3 separate regions of the Homo sapiens genome follow, and all the other regions are linked to region 1. The links come from fine-mapping of genetic effects on gene expression. A gene starts in region 1. Each other region holds a variant in brackets. All regions are shown on one strand. Distances are from middle to middle. Region 1 holds the start of EPPK1 (epiplakin 1). Region 2 has its middle 12 kb from the start of NRBP2. Region 3 holds the start of PUF60 (poly(U) binding splicing factor 60).

Region 1 (4,153 bases):
CCTGACCTGCAGGGGGAAGCTAGGTGCCAGTGCCAGGAGGAGGTGGGTAGAGCCGTGGGCAGTACTGGGCATGGGAGCCCTCTCGCTCACCTCCTGACACCCTCCCTGATGCCCTTCCTTGCTGTGTAGGTGGTATAGGCCCAGGCCTGGGGGCTGGAGGAGTGGCCTGTGGCTCCGGGGACTGCTGGGCTGAAGCACTGGACTGGAGCCCCTGGGGAGGTGGTGGCTCCCAGAAGCCCTGACTGGGAGTGGCCCAGGGACCTGGGGAGTAGGGCAGGCACCCAAGTCTGCCCCCAGAGGTGTCCCCAGAGGTCACTGGGCTGGGGGCCACCACAGGGCAGGGGATCTGGAGTCACAGGAAGACAAAGCCGAGGGAGAGGAGCCAGGGGACAGATGCCAGTGGGTGCAGCAGAGCAGGGCCAGCTCCATGCCACCTGCCTATACCAGGGGGGTGACGGGCAGAAATGGGTGCAGCGGAGCAGGGCCAGCTCCGTGCCACCTGCCTATACTGGAGGGGTGACGGGCAGAAATGGGTGCAGCGGAGCAGGGCCAGCTCTGTGCCACCTGCCTATACCGGAGGGGTGAGGAGCAGACAGGCATGTGGCCCGTCCCTGGGCACACAAGAAGGCTTGGTCTGGCCAGCCTAACACCCCCTTCTTGCAGCGAGGGGCTGGCATACACCCAGGTTTTGTGGCCTGGCAGGGGCGCTGCCTGCAATGGCTCACCGCAGGAAGAAGTGGCTCTGGGGTGTGCTCCAGGCCACAGGCCATAGCCAGCACCACCATGCCTCCCAGCAAGACCACACAGACAGTGTCCAGGCATCCGGTGAGCAGGGCTGGGGATGGATGCGGTTGGCCTGGCAGTGCCTTGGGGAAATGCGGGTTCCACCAGAGCTCCTCTGGGGTCAGGGCCCCGCAGTCGGCAGCAGCCATGCTGTGCGGCCAGTGTGGCAGGTGTGGACAGGGTCCAGGCAGCCTGGGTGAGCAGGTGTGAGTGTGGACCTGGTGGGTGGGTGAGAGCAGAGCCAGGGCAGTGGTCCCAAGCACCCTAACCCCTGAAGGCCTAACCTGTCCCTCCTGCACCTGCGTGGGCGCCTGCAATTACCCTCATGGTGTGCATTGGAGGTGGCTGGCTGGCTCTGGATGATTTTCTGGTCAAGAATGACTCAGGCAGAGGTGGGGGCTGGAGCTTGGGAGAAGGGGGCACTTGTGGGGGTGGGGAGCACCTGAGCCCTCAGGACCTCCAGGACTACGGGACAGAGGAGGAGGGGCCTTGGGGACAGAGGAGGAGGGGCTTTGGGCCCTGTACTTCCGTGGCCCTGCCCACCTGGGATATCGGGGCAGCCAAGGGGAGGGCCCTCCAGAAGATCCATGGAAGGTTCCCGTGCCAGGCTGAGGCTGCCCCCAGGCCAGCCCCCGAGGCTGTGAGCCTCCATGCCCAGTGTCTCTGGCATGCCCCAGCCTTGGAAGGTGGGTGCCAGGATGGGCTTCAGAGAGGGGACCAGGTACTCCCAGGGTGACAGGGAACATTCTCTGTGCCCAGGTGGAGGAGCCAGACCGGGGGGTGAGGCCTGGCACTGCTCCAGGCAGGACATCCCAGCTCTTACAACGTCATGGGGGCAGGGGGGCCTGCCAAGGAGAGCCTTGAAGACCCCTGGACCCAGCAGACACACGACGTGAAGCAGCGTCCCCAGGAAGCTGAGCAGACAAGGTGGGGTCGGGGCTGGAGGCAGGGACACCAGCCCGCACCGCATTAGTGGCTTGTGGGGATAGAAACCGCCGCTCTGGCCGGTCCGCGTTTCACTCCAAACTCCTTTCCCAAAAAAAAAAAGCTGTTCTGAAGGGCACAGGACGCCTCCGCGCCCGCCCTGCGTTCCTTCGCGGTGACTCCCTGCTGGGGACGAGGGGAGGGTCCCGGCTGCCCAGCCGCCGCCCCTTGCCCGGGGTGCAAGCGCCAGGCCCGGGCCGCGCGGGGTTTCCGGCACCTGCCCGCCCCGCCCCGCCCCGCGTCGGGGCCCCGACCTGGGCGCCGCCCTAGACGGGGGCGGGGCCTGTGGGGCTTGAAATGCGGGCGGAGCGGGCGCGCGGAGACACTGCGGACCGAGCGGCGAGCGGGCAGGTGCGGCGGGTGCGGCGGGTGCGGCGGGTGCGGCGGGTGCGGGCAGGTGCGGCGGGTGCGGGCAGGTGCGGCGGGTGCGGGTGCGGGCTCGGGGCCGGGCGGGGCGGCGGCCGCCGAAGGAAACCGGATCCCCGCTGGAGCCGCACGCCGAGGCCAGGGTAGGGGCGCGGCGGCCAGCGGGGTCTTGGGCTCTGGCCGGGCAGGTTTCCCGCCCTGGGCAATTTGAGCTCCGAGTCCGAAGTGGCGCCCCTGAGTCCCGGGCGCCGGTGAAGAGGAGGCGCCGGCCCCGAGCCCTCACGGGAGAGGCGGCCAGGGGCGGGGGTCTCGCAGGCCCAGCGGTTTTCCCTGCAGCGAGGACCGCCCGGGGCACGCTCTGCAGGGTGGGGAACGCCCAGGCCAGGAGGCAGCTAGGCCGACAAATTGAGAGGGGTGACTCCTGGCAACATTGCCGGGAGGGAGGCGTCACGGATCCGGGGAAGCTGCCTGCTGTTGGGTGAGCGGTCCCAGGGGTGGCCACTCCGGGTCAGGTAAGCGGTCACACGGTCGCCTGGAGACCCGTGGGAGGCAGAGGCAGGAAGGGCCCTGTTCATCACTTGGGCCCAGGGCTCTGCTTCCCTGCCCTGGGCCCCCGCTGCACTGTGCCAAGCTTGTTATTGGGGCCACTGATCTCTGATCATGGTGCAGGTTGCAGGTGGGTGGGGTCTTCCCACAAGGGCACACAGCCGGGCAGAAGCTAAGGCTGCTGCCTCCTGTGTGGGCCCAGGCAGCTGCCAGGGTCTGTCCTGACCTGACTCAGGCAGGCGGCTGCAGCCTCCCCAACCTTTGTCCCAGGCTGCGGTGGGGGCCTGCCGGGCAGTCTGGTGACAGACAGTGACCTCACCCAAGAGATGCAGACCCACCCTCCTCAGGAACGGCCCTCCACCACTTGGGGCCTGGGGGCCACCTGAAGTGGGGAATCCACAGGAGGGGCCCTTTGTGCCTCAGGCTCCGGGGAAATCTGCTCGGCCTCCTCCCCACCCCATCACCCTAACCCTGACCCCGTGCTCTCCTAGGCAGCAGCCACCTCCTCCAGATGCCCCCACACTCGAAGCTGCACCCCCTGCCCCCCCTCGCTCCGGACCCTCTGTCCAGCTGCCCTCCCAGGCCCCACATGGAGTCAAGACACCCACTCCCGGGCCTTCCTCCTGCCAAGCCTGGGAAGGGGCAGGGCCCAGGGAAGGGGCAGGGCCCAGAGGGGTTCATACCAGGCCCAAGGTCAGGAAGAGATAGGGAGTGGTGCAGCCAGCCACAGGCCGCATCTCACGCATGGTGCGGGGCATGCACTGGCAGGCACACTCACACACGCAGGGCAAGCCTGCCCCCGACTCCCTGCTCCCAAGCGCCCTGTCTCCAGCCTTCCTCCCTGGATCTCCTCTTTGTTTGGGGAACTTGAGCCACTTGCCTGAGCTTACGAGGCCCGCTTAGCACGCGGCCTGTCTGGGCTGGCGGCCTGTGCGCAGGTCAGGGGCCCGCCCAAGGTGCTGTCCCCACCCTCACTGGCCCTGCCCCGCCCTCGCTGGCCCTGCCCCACCCTGGCCCGCACTGCCCCTCCCCCTTGCTGGGAAATCAGGTGCTCCTCTCATTTCCTCACCGCCATCCCTGGCCGGATGTCAGGGGACAGGGCAGGGCCCTGACCCCCTAGAAGCCCCTCGTCTGGCCTGGATGCCATAGTGAGTGGCTGCCTTAGGCTCACAGATCCTGGAGGGTCCTGGAACGAGGCGTGCTGGAGAGGGCCCAGCCCTAGGGGAGGCAGGTGCCAGTAGAGGTGGACACAAAAGCGCCCAGGCTGGGTTCCCAGAAGCAGAGTCTGTCTGAGGCAGGGGTAACCGGGAGTGGTCTCAGGATGGCCTCAGGAAGGGAAGGGAGGAGGAAGCAGGTGGACGAAGGAGAAGCTGGCCTGTCCTGCCGTCTCATGTACCCCCCAGAAGCAGATCTGGACAGCCCCGTAGCCACCCCGGTCAGGCTGTGCCCTTGAGCCTGGCCTCTTCCTGGGGAA
Region 2 (4,153 bases), 25 kb after region 1:
GACTACAGGCACCTGCCACCATGCCCGGCTAATTTTTTGTATTTTTAGTAGACACGGGGTTTCACCATGTTAGCCAGGATGGTCTCGATCTCCTGACCTCGTGATCCGCCCGCCTCAGCCTCCCAAAGTGCTAGGGTTACAGGCGTGAGCTACCAGATATTTTTAATGATTTAAAAAGTGAAAACAGCATATTATGGTTCTCTAAATATATACCATTTCCATTGCTCTTTCTGCATTCCTGAAGTTCCAGGTTCCCTCTGGTATCATTCCCTTCAGGCTAAATACCTTTCTTTAGCATTTTCTTTTAAAGTTGGCAGGTGAAGCACTTTGGGAGGCCAAGGCGGGCAGATCACTTGAGGTCAGGAGTTCAAGACCAGTATGGCCAACATGGTAAGACCCTGTCTCTACTAAAAATACAAAAATTAGCTGGGCGTGATGTTGCTTATAATCACGGGAGGATGAGGTGGGAGAATCACTCGAACCCAAGAAGTGGAGGTTGCAGTGAGCCAAGATCACACCATTGCACTCCAGCCTGAGCAACAGAGTGAGTGTCCACCTTGGCTCGTGGGTGGGAACTCATGAGCGCCCACTCCAAGCTGTGTCCTCTCAAAAAAAGTAAATAAAGTCTGCTGGTGAGGAATTTTACACATATAAATACATAAAATATTTGATTTGAGTTTATCCCATCTGGAGTTGGCCAAACTTTTTGATTTTCATAAGTTTATATCTTTCACTAAATTAGAGAACTTTTCTGCCATTATTTCTTCAAAATAAATGTTTTATGTACTAATATCTTTCCATTCCCCTTCTGGAACTTCAAATACAAAAGTGATAGATGTTTTGATATTGTTTCACAGCTCTCTGAAGCTTTGTTCATTTTTTTAAAAAATCTTTTCTCCTGTTTTTCAGATTAGATAATTTCTATTGATCTCTTTGTAAGTTTACTGACTCCTTCCTCTGTAATCCCCCTTTTGCTATTGAGACACTCAGTAAGCCTTTTTTTTTTTTTTACTTTGAGACAGAGTCTCACTCTGTTGCCCAGGTTGGAGTGCAGTGGGGCGTGATCTCAGCTCACTGCGGAGTCCGCCTCCTGGGTTCAAGTGATTCTCATGCCTCAGCCTCCTGAATAGCTGGGACTACAGCTGTGTGCCACCATGCCTGGCTAATTTTTGTACTTTTAGTAGAGACAGGGTTTCTCCATGTTGCCCAGGCTGGTCTCAAACGCCTAGACTCAAGCGATCTGCCCGCCTCGGCCTGCCAAAGTGCTGGGGTTACAGGCATGAGCCACTGTGCCTGGCCAGCTTTTTTACTTCAGGTGATTTTTTACTTCAGGTAATATGTTTTTCACTTCTACCATTTCCACCTGCTGAGAACGTCTGTCTTTTCACTCATTCTTGGGGTGTCCACTCTTGCCGCGGGGAGCATCGGGCTGGAATTGCTGCTGTGAAATCTTTTCCTGGTCCCTCCAGCATCTGAGTCCTGGGGTTCTGCCAGCAACTGTCTGTCTTTTCCCCTGAGACCGGATCCAATTTCCAGTCCTTGGCATGTTGGGTAATTTGGGGTTGTATCCTGGATGTTTTAAATAATCAGATGCGAGGCTCTGAGCCCTGCGAGAACGCGCTTGAGAATGTTGGCATTTTCACTTTGGCGGGCACTCATCCCGGCTGGGTCAGGCCACAAGCCGTATCCCAGCCGCTGTGTGCAGTGGATCCGTGTTGGCTCAATTCTCAAGGCTGTTGCTGTGCGGCCTGTTCCCCACACGTGCTGCTCAGCTCAGGCAAGCACCGAGCTTGTGTTGTTTCATGCTCAGCGTGGAGGCCCCTCCTCCAGGTCGCTGCTCTGTGGGGTTCCCATACACTCAGGCTCCTAGGAGGAGTCCATTTAGAAAGCCAGGGTTTTTCTCAGAGTCTTAGTTCCTTGTGCTGTCATCCATTTCACACGACTTGGGCCCTGCTCGGGGCAACACAGCAAGAGAAAAGACAGGGAAAATAAGAGAGGGACCTTGCACACACACGCTCTGGACCACAGAGCCCTGTGCCCAGCTCCTCTGTCAATACAGGTGGAATCTCGTGCAGGATCGCAGGGGTCTGTGATGCCACCAAAGAGCAGGCCGGGACAGGGTTAGGAGAGAAAGGAGAGGGAAGTGGGGGTTTCTCCTACGCACTCTTATTTGCAGAGGGAAAGGCGGGTTTGTATTGGGGTTGTCGGTCTTTGCACCCACGGCACAGTTGTGAGACACCCCCATCCTCAGATCAAAGCCGCACATA[C/GAC]AGCTGGGGAAAAACAAAACAAAACAAAACAAAAACAGTAAACCTCCATGCCAGTTGTTGGTAAGTTTTGAGTTTCCTCCCCAGCCAGCTGCTACTGTTAGCGTTTCACAGTCCTCCAGGAGTCGCTTTTTATATTCTGTCCAAAGGGAGAGAGGAGCTGTAGTGGCTGTGCTCCATCTCTGCCAGCCCAGAAGTTTCCAGAAGTGCTCTTCTGATTTTACAGGTGAAGAACCGGAGTCCTGGGGGTGTAACAAGCCCAGGTCCTCAAGGCAAGGGTGGGAACTCACGAGCGCCCAACTCCAAGCTGTGTCCTCGCCCCGCAAGCTTGTGCTGGTCACTGCTGCCCTGTGCCCCCCGGATAGAAACACTGCTGGAGGAGAAGCCTTTCTCAGAGCCCTGGGGAAGGGGATGGTCAGGCCACCTACACTCCTGGCCCTGCTCCACTGGCTGCACTGGAGTGGCATCTGGATGGACAGCAGCCGGCTGGAGACTGGGAGGAGGCCTGGGTGCAGGAGGCTGGGGCGCTGGGCAGCATGCGCCGCGGGGCAGCAGGACGCAGGGGCCTCCCAGCGGGACTCGCACGTGGCACTCTCTGGGGCAGGTGGTGACGGGAGGCAGACACACTCCAGGGGAGTCCCTCAGTCACCATGCTCCAGGTACTTGCGCCTCACGTTTAGAACCAGGGTAGATTTGGAGACTCCTGGGATCTTTTGACAAAATTTCTCTCCAATCTCTAAGTACAAAGGATGCTCCTACAAAGGGCCAGATGGCAAGTCCTGGGATGGAACCCCTGCCCTTGGTGCCACCACTGCTCTTTCATAACTGTGGGCTCTTCCGAAAGTGACTTCATGGCTCAGTGCCTCAGTTTCCCTTTTTGTAAAATGGTCATCATGGCTGGGCGCGGTGGCTCAGGCCTGTAATCCCAGCACTTTGGGGGGCCGAGGCGGGTGGATCATGAGGTCAGGAGTTCGAGACCAACCTGACCAACATGGTGAATCCCTGTCTCTACTAAAAATACAAAAATTAGCTGAGTGTGGTAGGTGCCTGTAATCCCAGCTACTCAGGAGGCTGAGGCAGGAGAATCACTTGAACCCGGTAGGCGGAGCTTGCAGTGAGCTGAGATCCCGCCACTGCACTCCAGACTGGGCGACAGAGTCTCTGTCTCAAAAAAAAGAAAAAAGAAAAAAAAAGGTCATCATAATAACACTTAACTCACTCAGCAGTTGTGAGTACAAATAAAATTCAAATCCTGGAAGTGTTTGAAAAACATCCACAAGAATGACAGAAAGGAGAAGCACACTGTTGTTTTTGTTAGTTTTAACATTCGTGTGGCTTTTTTCTTCCTATCCGAAAAAGAGATTTTCTCCCCGATCAGCCCAAGTCATCCTTCTAGTGGCAAGAAAATTAGGAATGTTATGGAAAGAATCCCAAAAGAAAAAACGAGTGAATATTCAGATTCACATTTTTCTTTTTTCTTTTTTTTTGTTTTTTTCTTTTTTGAGATGGGGTCTCGCTCTGTCACGCAGGTTGGAGTGCAGTGGTACAACAGCTCACTACAGCCTCGAACTCCTGGGCTCAAGCGATCCTTCCACCTTAGCCTCCCAAGTAGCTGGGACTACAGGTGTGTGCCACCATGCCCAGCTGATTTTTTTTTAAGGACTAGAAAGTCAAAGACAAATGCCCAGCAGATTTTGTAGAGCTGGGGTTTCGCCATGTTGCCTAGGCTGGTCTTGAACTCCTGAGCTCAAGCAATCCACCTGCCTCAGCCTCCCAAAGTGCTGGAATTACAGACATGAGCCGGCACGTCTGGCCTATATTCTGATTTATATTCAAAGTAGACTTTGCAGCAAGACAATAGGCTTGGAAGACAGGTTAGTGACGCAGTT
Region 3 (4,128 bases), 47 kb after region 1:
TTCCTCTTCCTTCATTTGCCCTGTTTGAGAAGGACCATCCTCCAGGTTTCCTGAGAGGGTGCATAGGAAGTTGTGGAGTCTTTACCTGTTTGTCTTTGTAGGGGTGGGTTGCCCCTCCACACCTGTGGGTGTTTCTCGTAAGGTGGAACAAGAGACTTAGGAAAGAAAAAGACACAGAGACAAAAGTATAGAGAAAGAAATAAGGGGACCCGGGGAACCAGCGTTCAGCATATGGAGGATCCCGCCAGCCTCTGAGTTCCCTTAGTATTTATTGATCATTTGTGGGTGTTTCTCGAAGAGGGGGATGTGTCAGGGTCACAAGACAATAGTGGGGAGAGGGTCAGCAGACAAACACGTGAACAAAGGTCTTTGCATCATAGACAATGTAAACGATTAAGTGCTGTGCTTTTAGATATGCATACACATAAACATCTCAATGCTTTACAAAGCAGTATTGCTGCCCGCAGGTCCCACCTCCAGCCCTAAGGCGGTTTTTCCCTATCTCAGTAGATGGAGCATGCAATCAGGTTTTATATGGAGACATTCCATTGCCCAGGGACGGGCAGGAGACAGATGCCTTCCTCTTGTCTCAACTGCAAGAGGCATTCCTTCCTCTTTTACTAATCCTCCTCAGCACAGACCCTTTACGGGTGTCGGGCTGGGGGACGGTCAGGTCTTTCCCATCCCACGAGGCCATATTTCAGACTATCACATGGGGAGAAACCTTGGACAATACCTGGCTTTCCTAGGCAGAGGTCCCTGCGGCCTTCCGCAGTTTTTGTGTCCCTGGGTACTTGAGATTAGGGAGTGGTGATGACTCTTAAGGAGCATGCTGCCTTCAAGCATCTGTTTAACAAAGCACATCTTGCACCGCCCTTAATCCATTCAACTCTGAGTTGACACAGCACATGTTTCAGAGAGCACGGGGTTGGGGGTAAGGTCATAGATTAACAGAGTCTCAAGGCAGAAGAATTTTCCTTAGTACAAAACAAAATGGAGTCTCCTATGTCTACTACTTTCTACACAGACACAGTAACAATCTGATCTCTCTTGCTTTTCCCCACAGTCTTTATGCTAACCTCACATATGCTTAACAGTGCGACTAGCTACAAAAAGCTTGGCTTGGTTGAAAATCATTTATTCCCAGGATTTCAAGGGTATTGTGTCATTTTCTTCTAGTTCCAAGAACTCTTGTGCCTTCCTGAATTCTGACTCTTTACCTATGATCTCTTCTTTTTCTTTGCCCCATTACTTGGGTAATTCTCAATGATGTGTCTTGATATACAACTTCCCTTTCACCCATTGTTCAGAAAACATGACTGTTTGGTTCTAGGAAATTTTCTTGATTTATCTCTGCTGATTTCTCTCATTTCCTTATTTTCTGGACAATTTATTTAGATGTTGGACTTCTGTTGAGTTTTTGTTGTTTTTTTGAGACAGGGTCTGGCTCTGTCACCCAGGCTGGAGTGCAGTGGTGTGATCACAGGGCACTGCAACCTCCACCTTCTGGGCTCCAGCAATCCTCCCACCTTAGCCTCTCTAGTAGCTAGGACTACAGGCGTGTGCCACCATGCCCAGCTGGTTTTTTAAAATTACTTTTTGTAGAGACGTGGCCTCACTATATTGCCCAAGCTGGTCTTGAACCCCTGGGCCCAAGTGATACTCCTGCCTCAGCCTCCTGAAGTGCTGGGAAGGCAGGCATGAGCCACTGTGCCTGACCTGGACTTCTCTTTTGAGATGCAGTCATGGTGGTGGCAAGAACACAGGCTCTGGAGCCATTCTACTGCTGCTCCCTGCCTTGTGATGTTGCCCATCAGTAAAAATGGGGTAACAGCTGTATCCATTGCATAGCACTGGGTTGTGAGGATCCCATGAATGAATGTGTGTAAGAACAGTCCTGGGCACCATGCATCCTGCGTGCACATTATTGCCAAG[G/A]GAAGCTGTCCCCAGAGGGTGGTGCCTGTGGCTTCCCCTGGTGGTGGTGGCAGACCAGCCCCCCACCTCCCATCCACCCCCTCCATTGTGGAGGCCTTGTGTGCCAGGCTAGCCCTAAGAGCACCCACCTGTGTTACTGCTATTCTGTTTTCCAGCTATCTGGTTCTGTCATTATACATTCTGGAAGACTTCATCTTAAAAGCCTATTGAATTGCTCACTTTCCCCTCATGTTTTATTTCTAAGAGCTCTTTCTCATCCCGAGGTTTCTTTCTCTATAGCCCCCAGTTCCTTTTTATTGACTGAGAATGGCATTTTAGTTTTCATTTTTCTTCGGCTTCCTTTATCGTCTCTGTTTCTTCTGAGTCCCTTTTCTTCTTTCTCAGGTGTCTGGTGATCCTGGGCTGTCCAGCTGCATTGAAGAGTGAGATGCTTTTAGTGGCTGGGGCTTATGACCTGGTGAGCTTCGAGGCCAGGGATCTGGCTGGGCCATTCTACTGGGCAACACTCTACCCCTAGGTGCCCTGCCAGTCTTTTCTTTTGAGCTAGGAGCTGCTGCAGAGAGGAGCCCTCTTCTCTGAGAAGCCTGATGGCATGCGGGTGGTCAGACCCAGCCCAGGGGTGGAGGCAGGGGTAGGACCCAGAGTCTCACTTACTCCCAGGCTTTCAGACAGGGCCTTGCTTGAGCAGGGCCTCAGAGCTCCTCTCCTGGAGCTCACGTCTCAGACACTGCAGTGCCTGCCAGCCCCGGTGGGTAGGGACAGAGGTCTGGGGTTTCCTTTCTGTAGCTGTGCTTTCACCCACGACCCTCAGACACTGGCCTCCATAGCCAAGTGGGCTGGAGTAGCTCTCGCTGTCCACCTTTCTTAAGCTCTGCAATATCCCAGCTCTTTGCCCTTGCAGGGTTTGTCTTTATAAAACCCCTTTCCTATAATTTTGGAAGGTTTCAGGAGGGAGGCGGGGAATATTCTGCCCTATTTAAGTAGAAGTGTCTGTATTAAATTCTAAATGTTCCCAGGGTTGAAAGGAGGCCTGCCCGGGATGCCTTGTGGCCTTAGGCAGCTGAAGGTGCCTGAGCTTACAGATGTGGCTTCTTCGGATGACCGAGTTGGGGTCTCGGGACTGGGTGCAGCAGATGGCAAATGTCCAGGACAGGCAGCTTTCCCAGCAGTACTGACAGACACCTTGGGCCATGAAAGCCAGTTCAGGGACTAACGGGGCCTGCGGGCTGCGGGTCTAGCGACTGATGTCAGCCAACCTAGGGTCATCGGTTCCCTGGAAGGAGAAAAAGCTGCCAATTGAACGGGGCCTCCCGGTCCCAGGGATGTCGCGACGCGGGGACGACGCATCTCACGACGTCAGCCTGAAACACGCGGGCCTTTCATCACCCGAGACTCCTCCAGCCCAGGAGGGCCCCGCTCTTTCGCCTGCCTCCTGGGGGAGAGCCTCTGGACGACGCACGCGACAGCGTTTTCTCCAAAAAAGGCAGAGAAGAGAAGCGTAGCAGTGGCCGCAAGGGCGACGGGCGGCGAAGGGTACTACGCACGCCCGCGTCGGCCACGCGGAGAGATACGCCCGACTCGAGTCCCGCGGCGCACGCCCCTAGACGCCCGAGGTGCGCGGGCCACGCCCCTCGCCCGGCCAAGAGCACGCCCCTTCCGTCGCCCCTCCCGGGGGCGTTTACCGTTCCTCCCCGCCCCGGAAGCGCGTTCTTACCTCCTTCCTCGCGAGAGTTCCGTGCACCGGCACCCAGATCGCGCGAGACAGCGGAAGGAGCAAGAGTGGGAGGCGCGCGCGGAGGCCGCGACGGACGCAAGATGGCGACGGCGACCATAGCTCTCGTAAGTGAGCCCCCCCATGAGCGCGGGCGGCCCTCGGCTTGCGGGGCCGGGTCGTCGACCCAGCCTGGGCGCGGAGGGCCTCCCAAGAACGCGGCGGTCTTCCCAGGTCCCGCGCGGACTCCCTCGTGTCCCCGGGTCGCGTGAGGCGGGGGCGGGGCGGGCGCGCGCCGGCGGCCGGCTCGCGGCCTCAGCTTCCGGCCTGCGGACCCCAGCTTCCGGCGGGGCGGGGCGGGGGCCTGGGCGCGGCGTGTGGCCCTTGCGGGCGAGCCTGGCGGGGTTGCGTTCCTGTCCGCTAGGTCCGGCAAGCGGGGGTCGTCGTCCTCCCTTTGCCGACGGGGGTGTGCGCCGTGGTCA

Evidence for each region. PIP is the estimated chance that this variant, and not a neighbour inherited with it, causes the effect.
Region 2: its variant is fine-mapped to the expression of EPPK1 in whole blood (TOPMed, PIP 0.97).
Region 3: its variant is fine-mapped to the expression of EPPK1 in whole blood (TOPMed, PIP 0.93).

The regions. Positions count from the first base shown.
Region 1 is chr8:143,876,403-143,880,555 of GRCh38, reverse strand. It overlaps EPPK1 (epiplakin 1), which reads left to right and starts at 2,089. Exons shown (of 2, transcript NM_031308.4): 1 at 2,089-2,118. RefSeq lists an enhancer at 737-1,379 and a silencer at 1,946-2,035.
Region 2 is chr8:143,851,122-143,855,274 of GRCh38, reverse strand. No RefSeq gene overlaps it. Among named protein-coding and RNA genes, the nearest start is that of NRBP2, 12 kb to the right of the region's middle. The variant C/GAC (reference allele first, on the strand shown) is at 2,268.
Region 3 is chr8:143,828,926-143,833,053 of GRCh38, reverse strand. PUF60 (poly(U) binding splicing factor 60) reads left to right here and starts at 3,739. Exons shown (of 12, transcript NM_078480.3): 1 at 3,739-3,774. The coding sequence starts at 3,751. It overlaps LOC107986985 (a long non-coding RNA gene), which reads right to left and starts at 3,774. Exons shown (of 3, transcript XR_001746138.2): 1 at 3,650-3,774; 2 at 3,016-3,208; 3 at 1,123-2,345. It also overlaps a transcript of NRBP2 not described here. RefSeq lists enhancers at 2,448-3,647, 2,968-3,667 and a silencer at 3,452-4,021. The variant G/A (reference allele first, on the strand shown) is at 1,936.